Linked DNA regions of Homo sapiens: regions 2, 3, 4 and 5 are each reported to be linked to region 1. Evidence: microRNA targets listed by miRTarBase, many of them from high-throughput screens and not tested one by one. Region 1 holds a microRNA gene; each other region holds the end of a gene's coding sequence. Distances are from middle to middle.
The links. Region 1 holds the annotated microRNA hsa-miR-653-3p (UUCACUGGAGUUUGUUUCAAUA, at 2,328-2,349, opposite strand). A microRNA usually pairs through its seed, bases 2 to 8, with sites in the 3' UTR of a target mRNA and lowers its output. Matches are read on the target gene's strand: a 7mer-m8 pairs with bases 2 to 8, a 7mer-A1 pairs with bases 2 to 7 and ends in A, and an 8mer does both.

Region 2: miRTarBase lists ZNF644 as a target of hsa-miR-653-3p. Seed matches in the 3' UTR shown: 8mer at 2,222-2,229.
Region 3: the mRNA of ZNF398 is a reported target of hsa-miR-653-3p. Seed matches in the 3' UTR shown: 8mer at 2,480-2,487, 7mer-A1 at 1,567-1,573 and 8mer at 1,360-1,367.
Region 4: the mRNA of CLTA is a reported target of hsa-miR-653-3p. Seed matches in the 3' UTR shown: 7mer-A1 at 240-246.
Region 5: the mRNA of RAD54L2 is a reported target of hsa-miR-653-3p. The part of its 3' UTR that is shown has no 7-base or 8-base seed match.

What each region holds. Positions count from the first base shown.
Region 1 is chr7:93,480,457-93,485,141 of GRCh38, forward strand. MIR653 (microRNA 653) reads right to left here and starts at 2,399; the gene lies at 2,304-2,399. The region is part of intron 3 of CALCR (calcitonin receptor); the gene reads right to left. It overlaps MIR489 (microRNA 489), which reads right to left and starts at 3,563; the gene lies at 3,480-3,563.
Region 2 is chr1:90,913,148-90,916,989 of GRCh38, forward strand. It overlaps ZNF644 (zinc finger protein 644), which reads right to left. Exons shown (of 6, transcript NM_201269.3): 6 at 2,157-3,842. The coding sequence ends at 3,651. Among named protein-coding and RNA genes, the nearest start is that of LINC01763, 63 kb to the left of the region's middle.
Region 3 is chr7:149,179,453-149,183,294 of GRCh38, reverse strand. ZNF398 (zinc finger protein 398) reads right to left here. Exons shown (of 6, transcript NM_170686.3): 6 at 253-3,842. The coding sequence ends at 3,494. Among named protein-coding and RNA genes, the nearest start is that of ZNF282, 14 kb to the left of the region's middle.
Region 4 is chr9:36,211,583-36,215,424 of GRCh38, forward strand. It overlaps CLTA (clathrin light chain A), which reads left to right. Exons shown (of 5, transcript NM_001833.4): 5 at 21-477. The coding sequence ends at 192. It overlaps GNE (glucosamine (UDP-N-acetyl)-2-epimerase/N-acetylmannosamine kinase), which reads right to left. Exons shown (of 12, transcript NM_005476.7): 12 at 2,859-3,842. LOC124902151 (a long non-coding RNA gene) reads right to left here and starts at 2,429. Exons shown (of 2, transcript XR_007061474.1): 1 at 1,704-2,429.
Region 5 is chr3:51,662,859-51,666,700 of GRCh38, forward strand. RAD54L2 (RAD54 like 2) reads left to right here. Exons shown (of 23, transcript NM_015106.4): 23 at 1-3,842. The coding sequence ends at 562. Among named protein-coding and RNA genes, the nearest start is that of TEX264, 6.5 kb to the right of the region's middle. RefSeq lists an enhancer at 1-329.

The DNA of each region.
Region 1 (4,685 bases):
TTAATTTCTATCATACCCGTTGAAATTTCAATTCTAAGATTGAAGTTTCTCCAATTGTATTGATGGCAGAAGTGGTGTTATGTACTCTTCTATATGTGCTAGTTTCTAAACAAAACTCATCCCTATTAAGTTGACATGTATATTCCTGGCTCTTCATGGTGAATCCTCACTGTTTTCCATGTGTGTCATTGTATATGTCCTACACGACAGCACATCACTAACTGCTAAGCTGTCCAGCACAGAATCCAATCAAAATTCAGAGTTTGGAGAGAGTAGGGAGCAAAAATATTCAGGATGGCTACAGATACAAGGTAGAATTTGAATTGTATCTTGAGTGTGGGAAGTTTCTGCATAGGCACAAGGGGGGGTCGAGAAGCCTTTTGGGATGGAGGGACCTTTCCCACAAAAGTCTGGAGGTTGGAAATGACATGCATGAGCCACTGTGAGAAAACCATCTTGCCTGAAGGGGAGCATATTTGAGGGTAAGAAGGTCAGGACTTTGCTTTCAAGACTGCATTATCTGAATCTTCAGATAACAAAAAAAGAGTTAAAACTTGTTTTGTCACTTTGAGCAGGTTAGCAACCTCTCACTAGATCTGTTTCCTCAACCTAGGAAACGTAAAATAAGAAGAGCGGTAAGAATAATATTTATCATCTGTCATGTTGTGAGGATGAACAAGACAATAAACACCAAGTGTCAGGGACATGAAAGGTTCAAAACATTTTAGCTAATATTGTTAAAACATGGTATATAACATAATATATATGATAAAGATGTTTTGTAGATTTTTGATCAGTGAAGGTTGTGAAAGGAGAATTTTTAGTAAAATTCATGCAGCAGGCATCAGATGTCCACAGGTTAAAGTTGCGGGGTGGGGTGGGGGCAGCCAGGAAGTTGAAGGCCTGGCTGGACTAGATCAGTCCATGTTGGAACAAGAAAGTACCACTCTTAGCACCTTCTCAATAATAAAAACATGAAGGCATATTTGAATACAAGGAATGGGAAACAGTAATAGTCAAATAGCCCAGATAATTAGCCTAGATATTTGGGGAAAAAAATAGTTCCCAAGAAAGGGAAGATGCTGGGAAAGGAAAACCTTATTAGGGGGAACTTCTCCCCCTTGGTAAGTAAGTCCTATTTTGGGTTAGATTTGGAGATGGTAGCAAGCCATCCTAGTGGAAATATCTTGCAAAGAGAAGAGGGTGAATACTTATCATTATTATAACATTACTGTGATAACTTCAAATGGACACCAATTGTGAATAAGGTTGACACTACTCTTTAAACATTTTGTTGATTTCTAATTTTAATGTCTCTTGAATTTATGTCAGAAGAGAAAGTAATGAACCCATAAAAATGATTATAACTGTGCAAATCCTTTACCAGTGTAGCTGAACACAATTCTTTTGATATATGACACTTTCCCCACTGGTCTTCAGATCAGTCAGCAAATATTGATCAAACTTGATGAGCCCAACATTGTGCCAGATGCTGAGGATACAGTGCTGAATAAAATAAGTGTAGACTGTGCTCTCATAGAGCTTACAGTCTGGCAAGATGGACCAACACTATAAAATATATTTCTGATACTTGAAATTATGAACAATAAAGAATCATCAGTCATAAAATTCTTAGATATTCCTAATGGAATTGGAACACGATTTGCAAAATTTTTAAAAAAGAGTAATTTGAAGGGATTCCATGTTGAGGTTTCTTTTTTTAGTTTATTACTCAACTTTTGTATGAATATGTGTGTTTTAAAAATTCAATTACATATTAGGCAACCATCAAAACAAGAATGGATCATGATGCCTTCACAATAGAGATATTAATTATTGGTTCAACTTATACATTTATTTTAGATTCTTCTTTTGTGGCTCTAAAATCTTCAGTTAATATGAGAATGATCATTTGATGTATTATTAATTTCTGGACCATTTTCTCACCATCTTCAAATCGAATTAGAAGATGGAACATGATGTCATATATAAATCTTATCTGTCACTTGTATTAGATATGCTAAACACTGGGAAGTATTTTGTTTAAATCTGGCTTTCTTCCCAAAAGTAACATTCTGAATTCTCTTTTTATATGGCTGACAACCAACCAAGAGATTTTCTTGCTCTAGTTGGAAATTCATGGAAACCATAGGCAAATAGTATGTCCGAGGATAACAAGTAGAAAACCCTATGCTTGTATTTTCAATTATATTTTTATTTGCTTTAATGCAGTTTTAACATCAGTAACAGTGGAAATACGACAATCTGTATACGAGTAGTTATAATTCATGCTGATGAAAGTAGCTTCCATCTTATCATTCTTGCAATATTGAAACAAACTCCAGTGAACTTGTTTGAAGCTGGTTCAGTAGAGATTGTTTCAACACTGAAGGAATGAAAAATTAGAACCTCTGTTGTCAGATGAGCAGTAATAATCTGCATCAGTTCCTGGTCTGGTTCATATTTGAGCACTGAAGATGGAATTTTCCCAACAGTAGATGAATGTCTCAGTGGCCTTCTTCCTAAAATAACATACCCATTGGGGCATTACGTTTATACATACAGTCATCCCTTGGTATACTCAGGGGATTGGTTGCAGGACCTCCTGTGGATACCAAAATCTGAGGATGCTTAGGTACTTCATATAAAATGGTGTAGTATTTGCATATGTGGATACCAAAATCTGAGGATGCTTAGGTCCTTCATATAAAATGGTGTAGTATTTGCATATAACCTATGTACATCCTCCTGTATTATTTAAATCATCCCCAGATTATTTATACCTAGTACAATGTAAATATGATGTAAATAGTTGTTATACTGTATTATTTAGGAAATAATAAAAAGAAAAATAGTCTGTATGTTTACAATACAATTTTTTCCTGAATATTTTCTATCCAAGATTGGTTCAATCTATGGATGTACAACCCATGGATACAGAGGGCTGACTGTATAGATAGATAGATAGATAGATAGATAGATAGATAGATAGATAGATAGACAGACAGATAGATAGATATAAACATATAAATATATGTATATGTATGATTTTATGTATATTATATATATATAATTACAATCATGGAATTACTACTGCTTAAAAATAACACATATACAAATTTCATAAAGTTTATTAAATGTTAAACTTTTGCTGATAATTTTATACAAATAAGAATTGCTGGGAAGGTGGTATCATTTTCAGCAATACAGAGACAAAATAAAACCAGTAGTGATTGGATGAAACTACCAAACAATGTAAGAGACTTCAAATATCCTACTTATTATAAGTGTTATGTCTATACTACTTATTTCAGGGGGTTAAATAAAAATATGATTATATGTTCACATTCAGATAGAAATGAGATATTAAGGGCATATTGTTTTTCTGAATAAACATCAGTTTTCAAAGCTTTGCATATAAACCATCTTACATGATTTTTCAACATACAAACAAACAAAACTCTTAATTGTTGTCCCATGTAGCAGTTTAGCTGCCGTATATGTGATGTCACTCCTAAAGGTTCAAGTAAATGGCGTCACACATACGACCACCAAGCTGCCACCAACAGCAGTAGTCAGCAGCCCAAACATCATCAGTTTTTTTCAGTCGACAAATACTTTGAGTGCCTCTCACATGTCAGGCACTCTTCTAGGTTCTGGAAATTCAGCAGTGAACCAAACTGGCAAGCCACCTGCTCTCATAGAGCTTACATTCTTGATTTTATCCACACTAATCATGGAATCCACAGGAAAGGAATCTGATTTGAAATGGTCATATGCTTATGCAATTCCTACTGTGATGTAGGACAGTCAGTTTGCTTTTGGGTTACAGGCAGTTTCTAGAAGTACAGAGACAGTTACAGAGCTGTTCTTCATGGAACTTTGAGAAATGGTCCATCTCTGCAATAGTTCAAGCCCACTGAGTGTATGGACCCAAGCTGCTGTGCTGAAGGGAGAGCTTCCTATTGATTGCCACATGCAAAACTACTCTAAAAAGTATGTAAACCTAGAATCCACAAACTGATGCAACCAATGAGATTTTCATGTCACCATCCTTAATGTTGATAATGTATATAATTATTTTTGCTTTTCAGTTACTTACACATTTCAAAATAAGAAAGGACAAAGCACACTGTTGTAAAAAGTGTTAGCCCTGGTTTTCCCAGGTAAGATCAGATGCCTGGCTGGTGTACTGTGTAATTCTACTTACATTATATAAACAACGAAACTGCATATATCATAAATTCAAAGCAAATAGGTGAACATAGATAAGTAAACAAGTAACAATAACACCTGCTCTGAAGAACCTAATTTTTATGTCTTTGTTATTACCATTGGCTTTGTTGTCATCAGCATCGTCACTGGCATCTTTTTCTGAGAGCTCACTGTATACCAACTGCTGCTCTAAGCTTACTGTATACCTCGCAGGAGGGAGAGGAATTGAGTGGGTGGTTATGGTTAATGGAAAGAGGCTAATTGAAGGTGGTGACCCAAACTGAGACTTTAAAACCTATATGGAAATCGAGTTGATAGAGTTCAATAGTTAGTGTATTTTCACAACAATCTATTGTCTAAAAAGTAATATTTCGGATTAATTAGGAACATTGTCATTAAAATTTTTTTTCTCTGAGAAGTGTCAGTGTGAACATAATAAACGTTTTGAAGAAAATGGACATATCAAATTT
Region 2 (3,842 bases), not on the chromosome of region 1:
TAATTCTTTCAGAGATGGGGTCTTACTATGTTGCTCAGGCTGATTTTGAACTCCTGGGCTCAAGTGATCCTTCTACCTCAGCCTGCAAAAGTGCTGGGATTACAGGCGTGAGCTACTGTGCCTGGTCTATTACATTTTCTTAGTGAGGAAAAACCCAGAGTGATCCTTTGGACTTTGTATTCTAATTGGACAGTCCTTGAGAAGTTATGTATATGTCCTTTAAAAAAGTTTGTCTAGTAAATTACTGAGAAATCATTATCTCCCCAACCCATAATTAAATAAGTAAAATCTAAAATACAGATATGAGTTATGCCACAGTTCTAATATACTCTAAAGAAGTATAGTGGAAAATAATACATAGAAGTTAACCTTTTTGTCTTGAAGCCATTAAATAAATCAACACTGCAGCCTGGAATTTTTTTTTTTTTTTGAGACGGAGTCTTGCTCTGTCACCCAGGCTGTAGTGCAGTGGCACCATCTTGGCTCACTGCAAGCTCCACCTCCCAGGTTCATGCCATTCTCCTGCCTCAGCCTCCCCAGCAGCTGGGACTAGAGGCGCACGCAGCAACGCCTGCTAATTTTTTTGTATTTTTAGTAGAGACGGGGTTTCACTGTGTTAGCCAGGATGGTCTCGATCTCCCGACTTCGCGATCCGCCCGCCTCGGCCTCCCAAAGTGCTGGGATTACAGGCGTGAGCCACTGCGCCTGGCCCAGACTGGAATTTTTTAAAGCCCTAATTTAGCATTAGAAGCTTGCATATCTCAGGCAATGGTAAAAGAATTAAAAGAAAATTAGTCAATACTGAATGATAAATCAGGCCATATGCTGACATAAAAATCTATCATGTAAATTGAGACAATATTTTATACTTTTCTTCTAGTGGGAACCAAATGAAAACATATTATTAATTTTCTAGTTGCCAAATAAAAGACGAATTTTGAATGCTTCCTAAAGAATTCTTTAAATTTTGTAACCCAAATATCTTTACTATGAAAAATGCTCTTTGCTTAATTTACTTTTCAGGAGTCACTCTAGTCTACTGTTTCTGATGTGAAATATTTTATTCTGATGACTGAATTCTTTATATAACTAGAAGGAGAAATAATTGTTTACATATAGTTCAACATATTTTAAAATTAAATGTAGTTTTGATTCCGAAACTTGTGGTCAAACTAATTCTTCTACTTGTATTCACACATGTTGATATTTGGCCTGATAAGACAAAATCATAGAAGTGTAAGAATTAGGAGGCCAGGTGTGGTGGCTCATGCCTGTAATCTCAACACTTTGAGAGGCGGAGGCGGAAGGATCTCTTGAGCCCAGGAGTTCAAGCACAGCCTGGGCAACATGGTAAAACTCTGTCTCTACGAAAAATACAAAAACTAGCCAAGAGTGATGACATGTGCTTTTAATTCCAGCTACTTGGGAGGCTGAAGTGGGAGGATCACTTGAGTCCTGAGAGGTTGAGTCTGCAGTGAGATATGATCACACCATTGCACTCCAGCCTGGGTGACAGAGTAAAACTCTGTCTTTAAAGAAAAAAAAAAAGAATTAGAGTGGAAAGGGGCTCTAGTGATTACTAGCCTTCCCACAAGATTCCTATGATTTTTGTTTGTTTGTTTGGTTTTTACTTCTGGACTCCACTTGCTATGTAGTATGTCTTCCAATTTAAAAATATATATTCAAAGACATATAACTATCAACGAAACTTGTTCAGTAAGAGATAACCAATATATACAGACTTGGTATATTTTCAGTCAAAAGTAAAGAAATGGGATGTTTTAGTTAGTTTTGTCACTATAGACAAATACATAGTTTTTATCGGGACTTTTGTAAAATTGAAAATAACTTACAAGTACTATTCCCTTATCTATTAACCTAAGGATCAGGAGACCCTTGGTTGGGAATGATCCAACTAGTCCAACCTTCTAATTTTGCATATAAGATGGCTCTGAATTTAGAGGTTTGATTAATCATGAAAGGGGGAAAATGATTTTTCTCACATACATTATATTGACCAATGAGGTGATTCTAGAAAAACTATGCTCTGTGATCCAAGTAACCTGGCAAGGATAAACAATTTAAATCCAATGAAACACAACCTGAAGTGAACTATTACCACCAATGATAAAAATAAGAAATGTTTCACATTTTAATTTTCTTTAAACCTTTTTTTATTTAGAGATTTTTCTGGTAAGGAGATATACCATAGGAAAGCAATTTCACTGGCAGTGAGGTATGTATATACTCTACCAAAATACTCCTTATTTTAACTGTTTTTAACTTTATTTACATACGAAGCAAAGAATCAATGCATATCCTTGGTTCAACTATAGTATTAGCCATACTACATGAAATAAAATGGTGCTTGCATACAAAAACTTGTTGTTTGTAAAGGAATCTGATTTCAGATTAAAATACCTAATTGTTTTTGGAAAAAATTTTTAAAAAGAATCACAATTTATCATGACCAAGACACCTGCACCATATTTTCCATTCCTCACAGCACATTTATTTCAGTAATTCTGTTATGTCGGTTCTTAGCATGAGCATAGTGTTACACGATTTTCGTACATATAATCACATCCAAAACAAGTTCTAAAATTTAAATTGTAAACATTCTCATATGTAGAAATATTTTAATTGGTGTATTAAGTTTTGCTAACTGATCAAATTTGGAAGATAATATAAATGAGAACGTCTATTCTAAACTGTGTAGTGAGCATTGTTTATTAATTACATTTCTACAATGTTAAATAAAGTAAGAGGCAAACCTGTCCTGTAAGCATGTCAAATTTTAGGTAAAACATTAAAAAGAAACAAACCTGTTAACAAAAGAATGTCTTGCAATAAAGAACATTAGATTTTTAAAATCTATTATGATACAAAAATGTAAAGGGTAAATAGCATCTTTGTTGACAAAGTAGGAGGTAGCATGGATGCACCACTTTATTGTCTGAGAAATGCAACTGGAGTAAAGAATATTTCCTTACCACAAATAATTTCCAGAACTATGTACATATTTCTTTTAGAAATACTTGTTTAAACAAATCTCCCTCCACTTTTTAGTATAAAAAAAACCGTTCCATGTGATTTTAAAAAAAACACTTACACATCTAGATAGAATAGTACTCTGCCCTATTTGAGTGAACAGTCTCAAACTATGAAGTACATGATATTTAATGCCCTAATTTGAGTAAATTTAGTCAGCGGTTCTTGGTATTATACAAAACACTAAATACATACAAACAAAATATAATATCTTATTTTTCTATGCAAGTCTTGTGGGGAATAAACAGAGCCTTGATTCTGGTAACACTGCAAAAAACATAATTGTCCAATAAGTCTGTCTATAAGTATCCATGTGCAACAGTTTATTAATGGCTGCTTACATGTACTGCTCTTTTACTGAGTGAACACAGTTAACCAACAAAACTTCATAAACCTTAAAAACACATCTTCCACCCTATATAAAATATATAGACTACTTACTGTTTTAAGTATTCAATTTGCTCTGATGTCACTGTAATTCACTTTCCCCCCATTTTCCTGCTTTAGTATTTATAAACAGATAATTTAATGTGGCTTAAAAAAAAAGAATTTCAAATTTACATCCAATTCAAACTGGCTATTTAAAAGGTTTCCTGGTTCTATGAAGCTGCTTCGGCCATTAGTAGAGAAAATGAAGTTTCTGTAATGGAGGCAGGCTTTTTAAGTAGTGACGTGACTTCCACCATGCCAGCTCCAGTCCGTGGAAGATTAGCGTTTACAATATGTCGTTGTAAGTGCTTAATCCAGTCTTCCTGAACAGACAAGGGTCCTCGAAAGACTAGGCCACAAAA
Region 3 (3,842 bases), 56 Mb from region 1:
AAAAAATCAGGCACAAAGAAAGAAAAAAAAAAACATATTTGGTGACATCAGAGGTCCTTGTCCGTAAGAAAATATTTTTGAGAAAGAAAGATGCTTTTGTTCATGGCTACTGAGCTGCCCTCAGGCAGTCACTGAGGATGCTTTTTGTAGTTTAAGAAGCTAAGACATGAGAGGAAGGGCAGGAGTCCTGCCCCTCCTCAGAGAAAATCTGAGCAGAAATTAGGGATTCCCATTCCATTTGGAATGAGGTCCTTTTTTTTTTTTTTTTTTAATATCAACGAGGCTTGTGTGGACTGTTATTACCGAGTAAGTCACAGGGTCTGGTCCTGGTTGAGATAGACATGAACATCACTTCTCAGATATGCTCAAGAGAAGCCCAGCAGAGCCCCACACCTTCCCCGCTAATAGGAAACTTGCACACATTATTAATGAAAAGGGAAGTAGGAGTTTCCAATACTAAATGTTCAGCAGAAAAGGAGCAGGGCCATCTTCTTGCACTTTCTAGACAATCAACCAACTTCCATTTATTTTCACAACTGTGGCTAAACCAGAGGTTCATCCAATGGTGACAATGGAAAACCTAGTAAGCAAAGAGTAAATCTGGTTATAGTCAACACCTGGATCCACTCTAAGGGAATGGTGCTTATGTGTGATAGTGACAGCTTCTTGGTCCAAAAGGCTGACAGATGAAGAGCACGTTTCTGGGGTTTCCCCTTTCCTATCTTGTCTGGTCATGACAAGCAGTTCTCATGTATTTCTTTAACTGAAGTGTTAAATTGCATGGTTTCTCTCAGGAGCACTTGATAGGCCAAGAGTTTCTCCTCCACACTTTCTGTTGGACACCTTATCCTTCCCACTGATCCATTTTACTTACCCACTTTTGAATCTTAAGCAAACACTCTTTGGAACTGGCCTGCAGTTCTAACTGATAGGGGATTGATGAAAGAAAAGAGTAACAGTTGAACTCTCTTTTATTCTTGGGCTGAGGCTTAGTATCGCACCTGCTTCCGTCTCTCTGGGATGGCCTTGCACATCGCCTTTCGTTCCATCTGAGGGCTCTTCCTTCATTCGTATTTGAATTGTGTTCACTTTTTGCCAAAGTTTAGGTCCCTGCTGGCTACACAGTTCCTTTCAGAAGGGACTGCGGGATCTATCTGCAGCCATTTCAATCCACAGGTCTCTTTCACTAATAAGCTGTGTTCTTGGCAAATCTTTGAGTAAAAAAGTATTTAAAGTGTTACCTAGTCCCACATCTCACCTACTTTAGGAGTCCCTCCTCCAGCATACCCTGGCAAATGCTTGAAATCCACTCAGAAAAGGGAACTCAGCACCTAGACAATACTTTGGCTCTTCTCCCTTTTCACTGGGGAAATCAAGGTGCAAACTAGAGCTGAATCTCACATTCAAGTTCCTAGTGGGTTGCCAATGAAGCCAGAACCTTGGCTTTGGGATTCCCAGCACCCCTAAATTTTCCCATGGTATAGGTCCAGATTCTGGCTAGAAAGCTCTTAATCCCAATATGCTAGGGTATTGCCCATCATGTCTTGTTCTGTATTATTGGGCTTTTTCACTGTAAGTTATGACAGCAGACACACATTTCTTGTGTCTCCCATGGTCCCTGGTATTGTGAATGTCATGGAGCAGATGTTTTCTAAGTGTGATTATCCTACAGAGCAACATGTTCAGACATAGCCTTCCCAGAAGCAAAGTTAGCTGGGCTAACACCTTCTTCTAGTGTTGTTATGCATAACTAGAGAGAGTGAAGGATGGGCTAGGTGATGAGCAAAAAAATGGGTCCTTTCCTTATCACTTCATCAAGAAAATATCCTGTCTAAACATTTCCAGACCTTGTTCTAGACCTCAGGAAGAAGCAGAGGAAACAAGAGTATAGGAATAAACCAGTTTCCTGCCCAAGATGTAAGACTTCTGCATTCTGTCTTCTACCTCAGGATTCCAAGTGGGAGTAAAACAACAAATCAAATAAATTTTAGTCAAGTTTCAACAAGAATTTATCTGCTTTGACTTTGCTGTCTTATTTAGCTTTGCCTGGACAGAAGCCAAAGACAGAGACAGAACTTTGGCAGGAAAAGGAATGTATCACAGACTTTTTTTGAATAATTCCTAGAGGCTCACTTTTTTTCCTTTCAACAGCCTCATTGTGCAGATGAAAATTTGAGATCCATAAAGGAAACAGAACTTAGGCCCAGTTGCAAAGCCACTTAGGAGCAGACTCAGATGCTCCCAGGTGATTAAATCACCCCAAGAAAAGAACATGTGGTAGTCAAAGTCCCTAAAAGCAACACAGGCAAGAACAAACTGTTGTCTATGCATGGTGCTTAGCTCTCAGTGATCTAGGAATTTCCTCAATCTGTCCACTGCCAATGGGATACAGCCAGATAGGGTGAACATACACTCTCTCTGATGGCTCAAGGAAGCTGCATTATAACACTGTTATCATCTCACTACTGAGGACCAAGAGTTCACTGGCACTTTCTGAAGCTCCATGCTTCTGGAAAGTGCTGTGATCTTTGTTGCTGATGATTGTCAAGAATATCAGACACCAGGAATGGAGAAGCCAACTTACTGGCTTGGAAAAGATAAGAATTTGATGTGAACGACTCTCAGAACATGGTGTAGGCACAAATTTTAAGCTGTTCTGTCATTGTTAAGCCAGCTATTTCTCTGAGATCTCTAGCTTTTAAAGCTGGGGCTAAGAAAACCGTTTCCAATTTTTTTAACCAGGACCTTGGCAAAGATTTCTGGCAGTTTAAATGGCAATAAGAGCCTGTTTCAAATCAAGCCAGTATAGTTAAGGAATATTCTCCTTAATAATCTTTTAAAGTCAGATTTCTTGTTCAACCAATATTAAACAAAATTTATGTGAATAATTAATCTAAGAAACCTAGGCAGGCAGTCTTGAGTTACCATGTTTCAGGGAAAGACAGCCACAGAGGTGTGTGAACAGATCTTGGCTGGTTTTGAGAGAGGAGGCAGCAACATAAACAGTGGCTTAAGCACTTTCTCCAACAACCATCTTAGCTATCAAAGAACTAATAAAAGGCTTTATAGTTAAACATTCTCATGCCTTATGATGGGCTTCCAGTTTTGGAGGCTCTTCTCATGTATCTGTCTCTACCTAGAGACATAATCTACTATCAACCTGCTGTTCTCTGAGAACAAGAGAACTAGAGGTTAAATCCTGCTTTCCAACCTCTCCGCAATATTCTTGTAACTTCTGCTTTTGTTGTATCTTTGAAAAGATGGACATGCTGGGCTCCTTTCCAGGTCTTTCTGGGTTTCAAAATGTGGTATTCTTGTAAGGGTGTGAAATTCCAAAACACAAGCATGTCTCTAGTCAAGTGTATAGGACCCCAAATTCATTGATGTGCCAGATAATAATTACTGTGGGTGTTGGATGGGGCTCACAGACCTTCTCTTGGATTTTGTGCCCTGCTGTGAGCATATACAAGCATGAAGCCACAGAGATTTGGATTTACAAAACTCCCCCTCCACTCCCTTCCCCATACCACTGGTTGGTCTCTAGACCTTCAGTGTTGACACCCAGGCCAGAAGTTTCAAGCCCAGTTATGAGGGGACCTGGTGGGTTGGGTGGCTGACCTGATGGGTCACTATCACCCCCACAGCCTCCATTGTGGCCTGAACGGAGGTGGTCCTTGAGTGTCTGTTTGTAGCGGAAGCTCCTGCCACAGTAGGAGCAGGGGTAGGGCCGCTCCCCGGTGTGGATGCGCTGGTGTTTCATTAGGTGGTGCTTGCGGATGAAGCTCTTGCCACAGTGAGGACAACTGAAGGGCCGCTCGCCTGTGTGCAGCCGCCGGTGGTTC
Region 4 (3,842 bases), not on the chromosome of region 1:
TATTTTGTTGTTGCTTCCAGGGCAGCAGAAGAAGCCTTTGTAAATGACATTGACGAGTCGTCCCCAGGCACTGAGTGGGAACGGGTGGCCCGGCTGTGTGACTTTAACCCCAAGTCTAGCAAGCAGGCCAAAGATGTCTCCCGCATGCGCTCAGTCCTCATCTCCCTCAAGCAGGCCCCGCTGGTGCACTGAAGAGCCACCCTGTGGAAACACTACATCTGCAATATCTTAATCCTACTCAGTGAAGCTCTTCACAGTCATTGGATTAATTATGTTGAGTTCTTTTGGACCAAACCTTTTTGTCTTTAGAGTTGTTCATTGTTTGTGATTGCATGTTTCCTTCCTTCAACTGTGTTCTCCCTGGCATTCAGAGAGGAGGGAGAGGAGGAAGAGGAAGGGGAGGGAAGCTTCCCAAGAGTAGCCTCAACCTGTGCTTCTGTGCATTATTCTGAGAATAAATTTCTGTTTCAAACTGTATTATGTGAAGCTTCTTTATTGACCTCAAGATGTGTTGTAGTTTGGAGTGAGGTTGGAAGGAATTTCCAGGAGGAATTTCCTTGAAATTTCTAGGGCTGAGGAGGCACAGCCACTGGGCACACAGCCCTGCCTTGAACTAAGATAGCACCGGGATCTAGAGTGGGATCCTGTGGACATTTTCATTTGAGAAGGGAGTTTAGTGGCTGAAGGTTAACCCCCTCATTATCTACCTAAGACACAGCTGTGAATCCTCTCACCAACCTAGTCGTTTTCTCCCAGATGGGCTCTTGCTTGCCAGTGTCCCTCAGTTTAGGGTCTTGGATAGTATATTTCGGCAGGAGTCTGTGGGGCACGTAGACTCTAGTAAGACCTTGACTCCTTTGGATCCGGCCAGTAAGCCTGAGTCAGGACGGCATTCATGTGTGGCTAGCCCCATTACTGTTGAGTCCTGTAGCACATGTTGGGTTCTGTGCCATCCCAAGCACTTGGTTCATATTTCTCTTGTAAAATCCTTCATCTAGACCTGTGCTGTCCAGTGCAGTATTCACCAGGCCCATGTGGCTATTTAAATGAATTTAAAATACATTTCTAGTCCTAGTCACAATTCATGTGCTCAGTAGCCATATGTGGTTAGGTGGCACTCGGATAGCACAGGTTATAGAACATGTCCATGGTCGCAGAAAGCTGCACTGGACCATGCTGATCTACCACAGGTGTTTCCAGGAGCCCGTGCTTTGTTCAGACACCAGTAAGTTCATTATCTGTCTTCAGAACCTGGCATAGTACCTGGCTCGTTTTAGGTGATGTTCCAAGCAATTATTAAAGCTATATTTCAGTAATCTGCTTATAACTACCTGGTACTTCCAAACTGGAGATTGAGGTAAACTGTAATACTATGCTCAGGATGGGGGTTAGGTGTTGCCATTGCCAAGAAGGAAAGGCCACTATCTCTTCAATGTTAATTATTTTTGGCTGGAAGGAGCTTTCATTACTTTTCCTGCTACCTCCCCGTTTCCAAGCTTAGTTGGGCTTTCCTTGACCTGGCCCACATTTCTGGCCTCTGCTTATTCCTCCCCCTTTAGTCAAATCTTATTACAATCAAGCAATCATTGTTCCCAGACTTTTGTTCCTACGGGACCTGCTAATCCCATTCCAAATGTCAAAATCCAATTTAAGAACTAGTTCAAAGGCCACCCCCCTTCCCCTGAACTCCCATGGCCATCTACCTGGGGCAGCTTATTTTTGGTAGTCTTGGTGCCATCGTCTGGACCAGTCTTGCCTCCCACACCAGCTGGGCTTCTTGAGGTGGGAGGTGGCAATTTTAAATGTCAACAAAATCTGTGACATTCTCTAGATGGAGAGGTGACTGAATAATGTGACAAAAGTGATGCTGGGATGACTTCCAAGGCTAGGTCATAAAAGGCAGTGCTGCTGATGGTTGATTTGTTGGAGCAACTAGCTGGTGGCCCTGAGCCGCCTCATAAAAAATTCTACCTTTGAAGCTACCCATGTGGTGAGGAAGCCCAAACTAGCCCACAGAGAGGCCACCTGAGAGACCCTGTAACCACACACATTGGGAGATGCCTGGCCAGCCAGCCTCGTGCTATTCCAGCTGACAACTACAAGTGCAGGATACTCTTGAGCTACAACTGTCAAGTTTGAGCCTTTCCCAAATCCTGACCCACAGAAACCACGACGTGAAACAATTACTGTTGTTTTAAGCTCTTCAGTTTTGAGGTTACACAGCAATAGTAATTTGGGATTGTTTCTAATGCCTGTATGAGACCCACATAGGGCCTCATAAAAAGAGGGAGTGGGTCTAGGGACTCAGTAAATGCTTAACACTTAGTTTCAAACCTCTTTCTTGGGGGCTACTTTGCTTTTTTATGCCAAATTTTCAATGTTATATATAGCAATGTTTTGTTTTTGTTGTTTTTGAGACAGGGTCTCACTGTGTCGCCCAGGCTAGAGTGCAATGGCATGATCATAACTAACTTACTGCAGCCTCCACTTCCCGGGCTCAGGTGATCCTCCCACCTCAGCCTCCTGAGTAGCTGAGACTGCACCATGCCTGGCTAATTTTTTTTGTATTGTTTTGTAGAGATGGGGTTTTGGCATGTTGCCCAGGCTGGTCTCGAACTCTAGGGTTCAAGCAATCTTTCTGCCTCAGCCTCCCAAAGTGCTGGGATTACAGGCATGAGGCACCATGCCCAGCCATGCTTTCTATTAATAGACTTTTTTTGGTTAAGAAAGCAATGATATTAGAGGCCTTAAGGAAGTTATATAACCTTCAAAACGTAAGCAGTGCAACAATTAAATCTCTTCTGGGAAGGAAAATGCTTTTGGCTAATGAGTTACGAACAAAACAAAATACAACAGGATTTCAACAAGGAAATGTATTTATTTTTTCTTTAGAATTTGGCTCAGAACAGTAACAAAAATATTTACATTAAAATAAATTAACATGCAATTACTTAACCATATGTAATAATTTACGTTGGAATATATTAGCCTTCCCATGAGTTTAATAAAAACTAATATTTGGTTTTAGATTCAATACCATCCTTTCAAATATTTGGTATGAAACTTGGTAGCAATGCAATTGTCTGATGTACAGAGCAGATTTCACCATGAGAGATTACACCAAAGAACAGATGTCCCTTCCCAGAACATTATCTCACCCCAGACTCAGAAACTGAGCAGCCAAGCTTCCTTCCCAGGAATCACCATGGAATGTCTGAACAATAACCAGGCCCTGGAGATTACTGCAGGGCTGGCAGAGTTTTAGGAATCAGCCAAACTCTTTTTCACACTAACCCACTAGGAAGGATATAGTTCAAATGTAATGTTGAGTCCTTCAGTTTATTTGAACACTGAAACAATATGTTGTAGAAACCTTCATTTTCCCAAAATAGAAATCTGAAAGATATATGCACATGATTTCTTAGATCATCTAAAAGTACCCATAAAAACCTGTCACTAGGGCCAGGTGTGATGGCTTACACCTGTAATCCCAGCACTTTGGGAGGCAGAGGCGGGCGGATCACCTGAGGTCAGGAGTTCAAGACCAGCCTGGCCAACATGGTGAAACCCTGTCTACTAAAAATACAAAAAAAAATCAGCCGGGCGTGGTGCATGTGCCTGTAATCCCAGCTACTCAAGAGGCTGAGGCAGGAGAATCACTTGAACTTGGGGGGCAGAGGTTGCATTGAGCCACTGCACTCCAGCCTGGGTGACAGAGTGAGACCCGTCTCAAAAAAATAGAACACCTGTCACTAGACCAAATACTATACTGGTAAAATTTCACAGCAGAGAGGAATATTTCATTAAATTCAGCTGATAGGGTCAAGGATACATTAAGTCAT
Region 5 (3,842 bases), not on the chromosome of region 1:
GCAGCCGTATGAACACGGGTATCCAGTCTCTGGCGGGTTTGCCATGCCACCCGTCTCCTTAAACCATAACCTCACCACCCCCTTCACCTCCCAGGCTGGGGAGAACTCCCTGTTTATGGGCAGTACCCCCTCCTACTACCAGCTGTCCAATTTGCTGGCAGATGCCCGCCTGGTGTTTCCAGTGACTACTGACCCTCTGGTGCCAGCAGGCCCCGTCAGTTCCTCTTCCACGGCTACCTCAGTCACTGCCAGCAACCCCTCCTTCATGCTCAACCCTTCTGTGCCAGGGATACTACCCAGCTATTCACTCCCATTCTCACAGCCACTCCTGTCCGAGCCGAGGATGTTTGCGCCTTTTCCTTCCCCTGTCTTGCCCAGCAACCTTTCGCGGGGCATGTCTATCTATCCAGGCTACATGTCCCCACATGCAGGCTACCCAGCTGGTGGCCTCCTACGGTCCCAGGTGCCTCCATTTGACTCTCATGAGGTTGCCGAGGTTGGGTTCAGCTCCAATGATGATGAGGATAAAGACGATGATGTGATAGAGGTCACTGGGAAATAGCTAGGGAGCCCCTCCCCACCTCACTTGGGGCCCCCAGCAGGTTGCCCACCAAGCTGAAAGGCAGTGATTTAGACCTTTTGAGAATAGGACACTTGGCAGGAGGGAAAAGGAAGAGGACAAAGGAGGGTGGTTGGCCAAAGTGGCAGAGCTCTGTTGCTGTTTAACAAAAGAGGCAAAAAAAAAAAAAAAAAAAAAAAAGTCCAACACAGCAGCAATAGCGGGAAATCAGGGACCCAAAACAGGGATGGAGGGGCAGTGCAGCCTCTTTTCCTTCCTGCCTTGCTTATGCTGTCTGCTTGCTTGCTCGCCCATCTGAGTGTAGAAGCGCACATCCCATTTCTGTCTTTGGGAACATTCTTTCCCAAGAGAGCTGCCTTACTAGGTGACTTAGCTTGGCCTGGGGAGGGGAGTGAAGGAAGGGAGAATGAGTGAGAGAAGGAGGGTGGGTAGGGGGAGCAGACTGTGATCCCATGTGAAGTGGGGTCTTTTTAGGGGGTGGGAAGGAAGCTGACCAGGTATGTGTGTTTGTGAGTGTGTGTGTGTATGTTTATTTTGTATGTGTATGTATGGAACAGAGCAGGGGTGAAGGTGGGAGGGGAGGGAGGGAAGAACTAAGAGGGAAACTGAAAAATGAATTTATCTTTCTTTAAATGGAAGTCAGTTTGGTGGTTCATGGCACCTAGTGTGAACATCAGGGTGAGCCCAGAAGAGCCATGGAAATAACAAGTTTCCTTCGGGATGGGTGAAGAGAAGGCCCAGCTAACTCAAGTCCCTGGTATTCAGAGCCACATTTGTGTGAGAATTTGGGGAAATTCATGAGAGAAAATGGGCATTACCAATCTATGTCTCTTAACCCCGGTGGCTATCTCTGAGCAGCTCTCCCTTTCCAGCTTGGAAGGTTGTCTGTGTGCAGAGGCTGGGAGGGAGAAGCACTGCAGTACGTGAATGAAAGGTCGCAGAGTTGTGGCTGGAAAATACATTTTTCACCAGGGTAGAACTGAGCCCCCAGCTGCCTATCCTGGTAGTCTTTTCTGTTCCTTTCCTTCCCCTTTAGAGAGCTCCATGTTAATTTATTTCTTATGGGCAATTATTTATTACTTGGACTTTTCATGTGTCTTGTTTATTTGGGGGTGGGGGGAGGTTAGGGGTAAGGAGGGTAGGTGATAGAAAGGGAAGTTTTAAGATATCCCAGACCCTATAGCCACTGGTGAAAAACAATCCTGGATGGATGGTAAATTGACCAGGGGAAGAGTTAGGTTTGACCAAGGTTTGGATTAAACAACTATATTTTTGAGAGATGGCTTTTCAGGAAGATCAGGGAATCCTGAGACTGGATAGTTAGTGGAGGGTGGGACTCATTCCACAGAAATCGAAAGTTGTGATCATGGAGTTTGCAATTGGGAAGTAAGAGACCCCAGATTTGGAGCTGTGTCCTCCTGGGATGATGTTAGATGTTGGCTCTCTATGCTGAATAGTGAAGCTGTGGATAGGCGGTTGCTGGGTTGAGGGACTGTTGATTTCATGTTCGAAAATATCTTCAGGTGGTCCATGTAGGCCTGGTGTCTGCTGCCTCCATCTTTGAAGGAACATGGAGGAGCCCTTTCTCTGTAGGAGCCCTAAGTCTGGGTTTTATCTTAAAAGAACACACCAGTCATTCTGGGTCTCCCCTTATTGCCATTGCCAGGGGAGGGTCGTCTAGTCCTTAAGCATAAACACTGGCTGTCTTCCTACTGGTGTCCCCGCCCCCTCTGTATCCCCCACCCCAACACTTTGCCAGACAGTTCTTTATGATGAACAAACTTTGGCTTTAGAGCTTTACCACTTACCCATGGCTCCCTCCTTACTGGGCAGGTGGTGTACCTGCCTCTTCCCAGCCCAGAAGGCAGCTTAGTCAGGTCATCCCAGTAGTAGCTCCTACAGCTCTTCTGACCAGCCCATTTCCATCTTTGGAGGGCCTTAGCAGACTCTGGGGTATTGTCCTCAGAGAAGAGACAAGGAGATGATGGATGGGGTGCATGTGTATATGTGTGTTTGTCTGCTGTCCAATAACACCAAAAGTGGAACTTAAGAAGCTTTGTGTTTTCATAAGCACCCTGCCAGACACTTAACTCTTCTACTCATGGAAGCCTTAGATCTACAATTTAGCTATGCAAATTATTTTAATAATTTAAAAATAGCAGTTCCAACCAGTGCTTTCTCTTTCAGATGCATCCCAAGAATGGATGGTGAAGGGACTCAGTTGGAGTGAGCTCTCAGGTTGAGGCTGGTGCAGTAGGAGTGAGCTAGACTGAATCTCCAATTTATGGGACACACTCAGAACCTGGGTTACACTGATGCCTCTCAGGCCCTGGAGCACTGGGATCCCAGAGATGCATGTGTGCATGTGTATGTCTGTGTGTGTGTGTTGTCGGGAGAAGGGGGTAGTATTTCTGTGTTCACTTCTAGGAAATCACTGTACTAGCCTCCAAGAATCCGGAAACCTTCCCAGCCGGGAACTGAAACCATTCCCTGGAGGGATGGGCTTGGCTTTTGAAGTTGACAGAAAGTAAATGGGTATTCTGAGAGGCAGCACATGCCTACTGTCTATCCAGTGTTCCAGGGACTGGGTCTTGCTTCTACTCAGCAGAGGCCATCATTCTGGGAGGCTGACCTGACTAGAGAAGGCTTTCTTTTATATGTGCAGTTTCTATTGTGTAGAGGGGTTGGGGGTGGGATCATGGGAAATTGGAGTGCTACCAGGTCCATGGTTTTTGCTTTTTTTTTTTTTTTTTTTTTTTTTTTTTTTTTTTAAAGAAAATAACCTGAAAACACTTCTGACTTTTCCACTGTCTCTTTATATGTGCTGATAGGCAAATGTGCATGCACACCAAACATAAGCATGTTTGTGAGGGAAGCAGGAAGTATCTCAGAGCCTAAGAACCATGTTTTATAGTTTCTTTGATCATAAACACTTGGTGGTGTCTTCCACCCATTATCCAGGCCTGAGGGGGGCAGGGTGGCTGGTGATAAGAGGGAGGGCAGAAAATCAGGCCTAGGCGTTTTCCCTTACCATTGTCTTCCATGGAATGTTTTCAAGGGCCTCTCAAGCCCCATTCATCTGGTTTAGCCAAGTTCTCAGCCTGGGGAACACAGTACTACTTAATGATTGAGGTTTACCATTTATAGTGATGCTTGATTTCCTTTTCTTAATATATTTGTAGATAAAAATTGAACAGGGACAAAGTAGCTATTTAAGAAAGGAAGTGAACCATGTTGGGTCATATCATTTTCTTTAGATTGG